Regions from separate parts of the Homo sapiens genome. Here region 1 is linked to region 2. The links come from fine-mapping of genetic effects on gene expression. A gene starts in region 2. The other region holds a variant in brackets. All regions are shown on one strand. Distances are between the middles of the regions. Region 1 has its middle 32 kb from the start of ZNF740. Region 2 holds the start of ZNF740 (zinc finger protein 740).

Region 1 (5,384 bases), 32 kb before region 2:
AGGGCAGGAAATGGTGTCATCCCAGAGTCCAAAGGCCTGAGAACCAGGACCTCCAGTGTCCTCAGGTGAGTGTCAAGGGCATAAGATTGATGTCCCAGCTCAAGAAGACAGAGAATGTGCCCTTTCCTCACCTTTTTGTTCTATTGAGCCCTCAGTGATTGGATGATGCCTGCACATTGATGAGGACAGATCTTCTTTCCTCAGTACAGCAATTCAAATGCAAGCTCTTCTAGAGACAGCCTCACAGACACACCCAGAAATAATGTCTACCAGCTCTCTAACCTAGGCCAGTTGACATACAACATCAACCGTCACAGGCCAGACATTAGGGCTCATGTCCCTAATCCCAGCACTTTGGGAAGCTGAGGCAGGAGGTTCATTTGAGCCCAGCCTGGCCAACATAGCAAAACACCATCCCAGGCCAGGCGAGGTGGCTCACGCCTGTAATCCCAGCACTTTGGGGGACTGGGGTGGGCAGATCACTTGAAATCAGAAGTTCCAGACCAACCTGGCCAATACAGTGAAACCCCGTCTCTACTAAAACAAAATACAAAAATTAGCCAGGAGTGGTGGCATGCACCTGTAGTCCCAGCCACTTGGGAGGCAGAGGCTGGGGAATTGCTTGAACCCAGGAGGTGGAGGTTGCAGTGAGTCGAGATCATGCCACTGCACTCCAGCCTGGGCAACAGAGCAAGACTCCATCTCAAAAAACAACAACAAAAAAAGAACACATCATCCCTACCAAAAAAAAAAATCAACCATCACAGCAATAAACCTCTCACTAAAATGAACAGGAAGAAAAAAAAGGGAGAAAACACAAATAATTAATATCAGAAATGAAAAAAGTGACAATATAGGTTCTACAGAACTGAAAGGATAATAAGAAAATAAGTTTATGTCAATAAGTGCTGAAACGTAGATGAAATAGACAAATTTCTGGACAGGTTTGGTGGCTCATGCCTGTAATCTCAGCTCTTGGGAGAGTGAAGCGGGAGGATCGCTTAAAGCCAGAAGTTTGAGACCAGTGTGGGCAACAAAGTAAGACCCCATTTCTACAAGAAAAAAAAAATAGCCAGGCTTGAAGCATGCTCCTGTAGTCTCAGTTACTCAGGGAGCTGAGATGGAAGAATTGCCTGAGCCCAGGAGTTTGAGACCAGCCTGGGAGATAGAGTGAGACCCCATCTCAAAAAAAAAAGGAAAGAAAAGAGACTGTTTTTTTTTAACTGCTTCTTGTGGAACAGGGCTACCTCATAGGCAGTGTCCCCAAGACAAATTTCTTTCTTTCTTTTTTTGAAACAGGATCTCACTCTGTCACCTAGGCTGGAGTGCAGTGGCACGATCTCAGCTCACTGCAACCTCTGTTTCCTGGGCTCAAGTAATTCTCCAGCCTCAGCCTCCCATGTGCTGGGATTACAGGCATAAGCCACCAAAGCCTGGCTAGTTATATATACATACACATATATATAGGGGTGTGTGCATATATATATATACACACACACATACACACACATATGTGTATATATACATATACACACCTACACACATATATATGTGTATATATACATATACACACACATATATGTGTATATATACATATACATACATATGTGTATACACATGTATATGTGCACATATGTATACGTATATGCACATATACATACATATATGTATACATATATACACATATATGTGCATGTATGTATACGTATGTGCACATATGTACATGTGTATGCATAAATACATATATGTACATGTGTATACATAAATACACATATATGTACATGCGTGTACATAAATACACATATATGTACATGCGTATACATAAATACACATATATGTACATGTGTATACATATATACACATATATGTACATGCGTATACATATATACACATATGTACATGTGTGTACATAAATACACATATGTACATATGTGTACATAAATACACATATGTACATGTATACATATATACACATGTATGTACATGTATATATATACACATGTATGTATACGTATATACACACATATATGTATATGTATATATACACACATATATGCATATGTATATACACACACATATGTGTATATGTATATATGTATATATACACGTATATATGTATATATACGTATATATGTATACATACACGTATACATGTATATATGTATGTATATATGTGTGTATATATGCATGTATACGTGTGTATGTATATATGTGTATGTATATATACGTATATAGACGTATTATACACATATACGTATATATATACGTGTATATACACGCTTATATACACGCGTATATACACGCGTATATATACACGTATATGTGT[G/A]TGTGTGTGTGTGTGTGTGTGTGTGTGTATTTTTTTTTTTGGTAGAGATGACGTTTTACCATGTTGCCCAGGCTGGTCTCAAACTCCTGAGCTCAAAGCAATCCACCCACCTCAGCCTCCCAAAGTTCTGGGATTACAGGCGTGAGCCACCATGCCCGGCTGCCAAAACAAATTTCTTAACAGACAAAAACTACCAAAGTTTACCTAAGAAGAAACAGTCCTGAATAGCCATTATCTTTATTTTTTTTTTTTTTTATTATTTTTCTTTGAGACAGAGTCTTGCCTTTCGCCCAGGCTGGAGTGCAATGGTGCTGTCTCACCTCACCGCAACCTCCGTCTCCCGGGTTCAAGCAATTCTCCTGCCTCAGCCTCCATGGGCCATAATTCTATGAAACTTGTAATGCTAATGCTAAATCAAGGGTTGTGAAAACACTGCCATCTTTATACAAAACCCAACCTCCAGCCGGGTGTGGTGGCTCACACCTGAAATCTCAGCACTTTGGGAGGCCGAGGCGGGCGGATCATCTGAGGTCGGGAGTTCCAGACCAGCCTGACCAACATGGAGAAACCCTGTCTCTACTAAAAATACAAAATTAGCCGGGCATGGTGGCACATGCCTGTAATCCCAGCTACTCAGGAAGGCTGAGGCAGGAGAATCACTTGAACCCGGGAGCTGGAGGTTGCTGTGAGCCTAGGCCACTGCACTCCAGCCTGGGCAACAAGAGCGAAACTCGGTCTCAAAAAACAAACAAACAAACAAAAACCCAACCTCCAAGTTCCTCCACTTAACATTTAAAAACTCTAGAAAGGAGGGTGGGTCGGCTGGGTGCAGTGGCTCATGCCTGTAATCCCAGCACTTTGGGAGGCCGAGGCGGGCAGATCAAGAGGTCAGGAGATTGGGACCATCAGTTGGTCCCAATTGGTCAGATTGGGCTAACACGGTGAAACCCCGTTTCTACTAAAAATGCAAAAAGTTAGCCGGGCAGGGTGGCACCTGCCTGTAGTCCCAGCTACTCGGGAGGCTGAGGCAAGAGAATCGCCTGAACCCAGGAGGCGGAAGTTGTAGTGAGCCGAGATCGCGCCACTGCATTCCAGCCTCAGCGACAGAGCGAGACTCCATCTCAAAAAAAAAAAAAGAAAGGAGGGTGGGTCAATCAGGCACCACAACTCTGTGGCTCATCCCCCTCCCCTCCCCCTCTGTTATCAGCCACTCTCCCTGCTGCTCCTCTTCGAGTCCCAGGGGAACATCACTTACTCCTTTTTAGACTCTGGCCCATCATTTCCCTTAGCATAGCTAAGATGGGTTGGGAGATCCAAAAGGATGTTAGTTTAAATTTTTAAAGTACTGAACATACTCAGTACCAATGAACACATCTGGTGCCTAGATTGGGTTTTCTAAATACTGTTCTCTGCTAAAAGGAATCAGAGCTTTCTGAAGACCTGGTTGATCTCAAGACTGGGGCAGACAAGGAGAAAGATTAGCCTGAAACATTTTTGTTGTGCCAGGAAATAAGGCAGTGCTGGGAAAAAAAAAAAAAAAAAAAAGTAATGTTGGCTGGGTGCCGTGGCTCACGCCTGTAACGCCTGCACTTTGGGAGGCCAAGGTGGTTGGATCACTTGAGGTCAGGAGTTCGAGACCAGCCTGGCCAACATGGCGAAACCCCATCTCTACTAAAAATACAAAAATTGGCTGGGCGCGGTGTCTCACGCCTGTAATCCCAGCACTTTGGGAGGCCGAGATGGGCGGATCACGAGGTCAGGAGATCGAGACCATCCTGGCTAACACGGTGAAACCCCGTCTCTACTAAAATATGAAAACAAAAAATTAGCCAGGTGTGGTGGTGGGCGCCTGTAGTCCCAGCCACTCAGGAGGCTGAGGCAGGAGAATGGTGTAAACTCAGGAGGCGGAGCTTGCAATGAGCCGAGATCGCACCACTGCACTCCAGCCTGGGTGACAGAGCGAGACTCCGTCGCAAAAAAAAAAAAAAAAAAAAACAAGCAAACAAACAAATTAGCCGGGCGTGGTGGCGGGTACCTGTAATCCCAGCTACTCAGGAGGCTGAGGCAGGAGAACTGCTTGAACCCAGAAGGCAGAGGTTGCAGTGAGCCAAGATCGCGCCACTGCACTTCAGCCTAGGTGACAGAGCCAGACTGTGTCTCAAAAAAAAAAAGAAAAAAAGTAATGTCAAAAGACATGGAAGTGCCGGGTGACTCATGTCTGTAGTCGCAGCACTTCAGGAGGCCAAGGTGGGAGGATCACTTAAGGCCAGGAGTTGGAGACTGGCCTGGGCAACATAGTGAGATCCTGTCTTCACACACACACACACACACACACACACACACAAATTTTTTAAAGGACATGGAAGCCAAATTAAAGGGGCTCCCTCCGGTCAAAACTGGAATAATTTGAGCATTAAAATAAGAACTGAAATTAATTATAATCTATTGAATAAAACCAAAGTCCATATTGATAATACACATGAATGAAAAAGGAGTGGGGAGGGCTCTTTTTTATAGTCTAATGCCAAATGACAAAAATGGAGGGAATGCTGGAGTTAGAAAATCAACATTGTGCAACCAATATGATAAAAACTGGCTAGGGGCCAGGTGCAGTGGCTCACACCTGTAATCCCAGCACTTTGGGAGGCTAAGGTGGGTGGATGACTTGAGATCAAGAGTTCGAGACCAGCCTGGCCAATATGGTGAAACCCCATGTCTACTAAAAATTAAAAAAAAAAAAAAATTAGCCGGGCGTGGTGTCATATGCCTGTAGTCCCAGCTACTCAGGAAGCTGAAGCAGGAGAATCACTTGAGCCCGGGAGTCAGAGGTTACAGTGAGCCGAGACTGCACCACTGCACTCCCGCCTTGGTGACAGAGCGAGACTCTGTCTCAATAAACAAACAAACAAACAATTGGCTAGGGTAAAATCATGAATGGATACTGATGCAGGGCAGGCAAGCCCCATAGTAGGGCTTAGCCCATGAGGGTCTGTGGCTTCACCCAGGAAAGAGGGCAAGCTGGTGGTAGGGTAGAAGAAAACAGCCTTATTGAAGTGGC
Region 2 (5,384 bases):
CAGACAGTTTACAAAAACAATTAAAATGGTCAAAGAGCAATAAAATAGTCCCACCTATTTGGAAGGCTGAAGTGGGAGGATCACTTGAGCTCACGAGTTGGAAACCAGCCTAAGGCAACAAAGCGTGGAGACCCATCTATTTATTTATTTATTTATTTATTTATTTTTTGAGACAGAGTTTCGCTCTTGTTGCCCAGGCTGGAGTGCAATGGCACAATATGGGCTCACTGCAACCCCCGCCTCCCGGGTTCAAGTGATTCTCCTGCCTCAGCCACCTGGTAACTGGGATTACAGGCACGTGCCACCAAGCCCAGCTAATTTTTTTGTATTTTTAGTAGAGATGGGGTTTCTCCATGTTGGCCCAGCTGGTCTCAAACTCCTGGCCTCAGGTGATCCGCCCACCTCGGTCTCCCAGAGTGCTGGGATTACAGGCGTGAGCCACCGTGCCTGTCCAGAGACCCATCTCTTAAAAAAAAAAAAGGCAATAAGAGAATATTAACTTCACTATTAATGACATGAAAATTAAAACAAATACTATTTTTCACCCATTAAACTAGTAACTGTATAAAAAATTCATAGCATACACTAAACATTGCCAAAGTTGTAGGAATAGGGAACATTCACACATGGTTCTGAGTAAACATGGGAGTTGTTACAAACTTTTACAATTCATTTTCACAGAATCTATTAAAATTTACATATCCGGCCAGGCATGGTGGCTCAATCCTGTAATCCTAGCACTCTAGGAGGCCGAGGCCAATGGATAGCTTGAGCCTAGGAATTCGAGACCAGCCTGGGCAACATGGCAAAACCCTGTCTCTACAAAAAACAAAAAAACAAAAAAAAAACTACAAAATTATCCAGGCACAGTTGCCCACATCTGTAGTCCCAACTACTTGGGAGGCTAAGATGGGAGGATTCCTTGAGCCCAGGAGGTTGAGGCTGCAGTGTGCCCTGACTGCACCATTGCACTCCAGCCTGGGCGACAGACCAAGACCCTATCTTTAAACAGAATGAAAATAGGGCCGGGTGTGGTGGCTCACACCTGGAATCCCAGCACTTTGGGAGGCCAAGGTGGGTAGATGACCTGAGGTCAGGAGTTCAAGACCAGCCTGACCAACATGGTGAAACTCCATCTCTACTAAAAAATACAAAAAAATTAGCCGGGCTGGCAGCAGGCGCCAGCTACTCAGGAGGCTAAGCCAGGAGAATTGCTTGAACCTGGGAGGTGGAGGTTGCAGTGAGCCAAGATTGTGCCATTGCACTCTAGCCTGGGTGACAGAGTGAGACTCCATCTCAAAAAAAAATAAAAATAAAAATAAATTTAAATAAAAGCACATATCCTATCTATAAATCCTTATAAATGCAAAAGGTAACTTTTTTTTCTTTTTTGAGACAGAGTTTCACTCTTATTGCCCAGGAAAGGCACGACTCTCGCCTCACCACAACTCCCGCCTCCCGGGTTCAAGTGATTCTCCTGACTCAGCCTCTCGAGTAGCTGGGATTACAGGCATGTGCCACCACGCCCGGCTAATTTTGTATTTTTAGAAGAGACGCGGTTTCTCCATGTTGGTCAGGCTGGTCTGGAACTCCCGACCTCAGATGATCCGCCCACCTCGGCTTCCCAACGTGCTGGGATTACAGGTGTGAGCCACCCTGCCCGGAGCAAAAAGATAACTATTTAAGGATGTTCATTATTGTATTGTTTATAAAGCAAAAAAATCTGAAACCTAAATGTTCATCAAGATGGGACAAGGCACACACATAAACTGGAATACTGTGCAACAGTTTTTTAAATGTTAGCTGACTCAGATGTCTAAAATACACTGTATGGCGCATTACAGGTGCTCAATAAATACTGGTTGAAAAGATTTTTGTATGAACACAGAAAAAAGCCTAAAAGCATATATACCAAACTGGTAAGAATGATTCCCTTCAGGAGCATGGGATAAGTAGAGGGGGAGAATAACCATTTTGTGTCTTTTATACTTTTGCGTTGTGTCGATTTGTAAAATAAGTAGGAGCTAATTTTCAAAAAAGATTTAAAAGACTTATTCCTGGTGATGTTTCTTTATCTCTCTCTTTCTCCATTTTGTCTCTATTTTAGAATGATCCTAAAACACAAAAAACGTACTTTCAATGGCCCAAATCATGGAGTGGCTCAGGGAAATGAAATCTGTCTACAAAAAAAAAAAAGTTGAGAATCCTTGTCTTTTTTTCATCATACAGTTTTTTTTTTCTTTTGGTATCACCATTACTTCTCCTAAAGTCACGACATAATATCACCTACAGCAGAAATGAGGACTTCAGTGGAATTGACATCTCCTTCCATCAAGCGCATTTGCAGTCCATCTTTAGCAGGACCTCTCTCTAATGGCTAAGGCTAGGCAGAAGAATTTGAAGACAGTCTGGTTTCCATTTTCCTAATGCAGCCTGGCCCAAGAGCCAGGACTCCCATAAGACTAGTCTACTGTGGGAGTCAGGGTCTTTTCCACGTGTGGAGGCTAGTGTTTGATGCTGGACGGCCTGGAGTAAAGGGCGAAGGGGAGAAGGTAACCAACCAGGCTGGCCTCGGGATTCGCAGAGGAGGGCTGGGGCTTTGACTTCTGCAGGGAGGTGAGCAGTGTGGCCAAGGGCTACTCAAGGAACGCCTCTGCGAGAATTCAGACTGTGGTTGAGCGCACAAAGCAAGAGTGTGCGAAGAAAAGTTAACGCCTCTCCCAGCTGACCCCAAAATCTGCTAATCTGGGCCTGACGGAAAAAATTCGGAGAAGAACCACCTCGGCCGAGTTACGTGAAAAGGCTGGGTACGAACTACTCTGGCTCTACTTGGGGCGCCGGCTCAGAGCGATGGGCAGGACGTCCGCGAGGAAGAAAGAGTGACGATGATTTTTCAAGGAGTCTGAACCAGCTCACCCAGCAAACCCTCCTCCCATCGAGCACCCAGCGTACAATCATCGAAGGGCCGAGGGTCCTGCCCTCAGTCTCGATGGCGGCCGGGGCGCGCCCCGGCCACGGCGCACGCGCCGGCCTCAGCGCTCCCTCCTCCATGCCCTCGGCGCACGGCGCCGCCCACTCACCCAGCTGCACCTCTCCGTGCGTCCCCAAGCTCACCCGCTCTGAGGCTGCCCCCGCTAGTCTAGCTGCCGAGCCCGGAAGTGGATGCAGCCGCTCGGCGGAGAGGACGAGGGGGAGGGGGAAGTGCTTCCGGGGAAACGGGCCGGGGTTGGTGTTTGTAAACTTGCCTCGGTCCCGGTGGGGGCAGCCGCGGCGGTGGGGTTGGCAGGGTGTGCTGGGGCCTGGAGGAGGCGCCGCGCGGCCAGGGAGCCAGCGGGAGGCCGCGCCTGGCAGGTAGGAGCAAGCCCCAAAGACCGCAGCGTCGTCCGTACAGACGGCAGCGCTTCAGTAGCTCGCAAGCCGTGGGGTGCCGCGCGGGAAGGGGGAGGGGAGGGGAGGAGGGGCGCGTGGCGAAGGGAGGGGGATCTCCGGGGGAGGGAGGGGAAAGGCCGTGCGCGCACACCGCCCCCTGCCCGCGCGTCCCGCCGCGTCCCCGGCCCGGGAGAGGGCTCTCGGAGGGGACGCGGGCGCGAGCACGCATCTCGCGCGCTTCTCGGCACTCTCCGGCTCTGCTCCCGGTTGGTGCAGCGGGTGCAGAGGCTGGCTGGCCGGAGCGAGGCGGGCGACACGCCGCGCCGGGCTTCGCCTGCCTGTCCTCCACCTCCGCAGCAAGTTTCCCTACCTTCGGGCGGACGGGGAGAACGCACACGTGTGGGCACTGCCAGTCCCGTTTCTGCCCGCCACCGAAGCACCCAGCGATGGCCCTTGAGCTTTCCTCCACCCTAGTCTTGCCGCCTCTGTAAAGTGCGAGCTTTTCGGGCCGGCCCACTGGGCACAAAAGCCCCAAAGGGTCTCCGCCCCCTTCTTCCATTCCTGAGATGGCAAATCCAAGCAACTTTCCTTTTGGCAGAGTTCCTCCATAGGAGGCCCCAATTACTTTTGCTCCTGTTGGCTTCCACTCCTTGCCCAGGAGACCAGTTCCTCCTATTGACCTAGAAAGAAAACTCTTCTTGACTCATGTCCTCGTTCTGAGCTTCACAGAGAGCGCCCAGCAAAAAAAAAATTCATATCGCACGTTGTAATGGCCTGAAGATGTTGCATTTAGCAGCCCCCCTCTTCCTTTCTGGTTTCAGGTTTCTGAAACAGATCGTGAGCTTCATCAAGAGAATTCAACTGGAAAACCAAGACTGGTAGACTCTCTTTTTCTTCAGACAATAGGCAGGAGCCAGGCAGAGTCCAGGGATTCTTGGAACACCTATCTTTTCTTCGGAGGACACTAAGTTCTATTTGAAGACAAAGTTCAATATGGCAACAGGACTGATGGGACACGAAGGAGTCGCTACCGTGATTTGGTGACAGTTCTTCAAAACGACAGTGTCTCAAGGAAAGGTGGACCTAGGAACTCCTGAACTTTTGGGTTGCCTTAAGTGAGAAATCAGCATGGCTCAGGTAAAAAGCTCTAGAGTCCTCCTCCAAGATAACTGGGAAGCCTGTTTGCAGTTTCACTCTTGAATGCTGCCTTAGTCAACATATTGACCAACCCCAGTGATCCAAGCTCTGTATTAAGCACCAGGGGGAGATCTAGAGGAAGGAAAGGAGACAGGCCACAGCCCCTGCCTTCAGGGAGCTTCCAGTCAAATGAAGGAGGTAGGCTATACTGCATCACAGGCACTGATGGGACATTTGCAAAGCAACGTGTACTCAGTTTACATTTGGTACATTAAGTGCTGAGGGGTGTAAGGGAGTGAATAGTACGGTGAATGCTTCTTTTGTTTTTTTCCAACAGGAATTTATTGAGTTCCTGTTGCATGCAAGGCATTGTGCTGGGAATACAAAGATGAATACGATTGTCCTTGTCCCCAGTGAGCTTCCAGGCTAGTTGGGGTCGGGAGAGGGATGGAAAGCCATTTATTTTTATATTCACAATGCCTTGTATAGTGGCTGGCTAGTAGTAGAGACTCTGAATCTGTTGATTGAGGAATGTGCAATAATAGGGGTATGTACATAGGAGAGAACAGTACTTCTGCTTGGATAGAAAAAGAAGATGGAGGTTGAAAGATGCATAGGATTTTGCTAAACAAGCGAGAAGGGTGTTTGGACAAAAGGAACAGCATGGGCAGGAGCTTAGAGTCATGGGAAAATGTGATGAGGTTCCGAGTACTGCAGGTTGTTTGATAGTTACGGAGTAAGGGATTTAAATGGGGATAGTTATGGAGGTAGTATTGACAGTGATAGGTGAGGAAGTTGTTCCCTGCAGTAAGCAGAGTGTAACCCAAAGGCCTTTTATGCCTCGCTAAGTTAAGCAGCAGAGTAGCATCAGATCAGTG

Evidence for each region. PIP is the estimated chance that this variant, and not a neighbour inherited with it, causes the effect. A credible set is the group of variants that fine-mapping cannot tell apart.
Region 1: its variant is the best candidate, but not a certain one, in a credible set for the expression of ZNF740 in NK cells (Schmiedel 2018, PIP 0.73).

Annotation. Positions count from the first base shown.
Region 1 is chr12:53,145,637-53,151,020 of GRCh38, forward strand. No RefSeq gene overlaps it. Among named protein-coding and RNA genes, the nearest start is that of ZNF740, 32 kb to the right of the region's middle. The variant G/A (reference allele first, on the strand shown) is at 2,327.
Region 2 is chr12:53,177,487-53,182,870 of GRCh38, forward strand. It overlaps ZNF740 (zinc finger protein 740), which reads left to right and starts at 3,236. Exons shown (of 7, transcript NM_001004304.4): 1 at 3,236-3,351; 2 at 4,191-4,506. The coding sequence starts at 4,498. It overlaps CSAD (cysteine sulfinic acid decarboxylase), which reads right to left and starts at 3,439. Exons shown (of 17, transcript NM_001244705.2): 1 at 3,246-3,439; 2 at 1,616-1,656. RefSeq lists an enhancer at 2,705-3,263 and silencers at 2,926-3,015, 3,306-3,605, 3,959-4,253.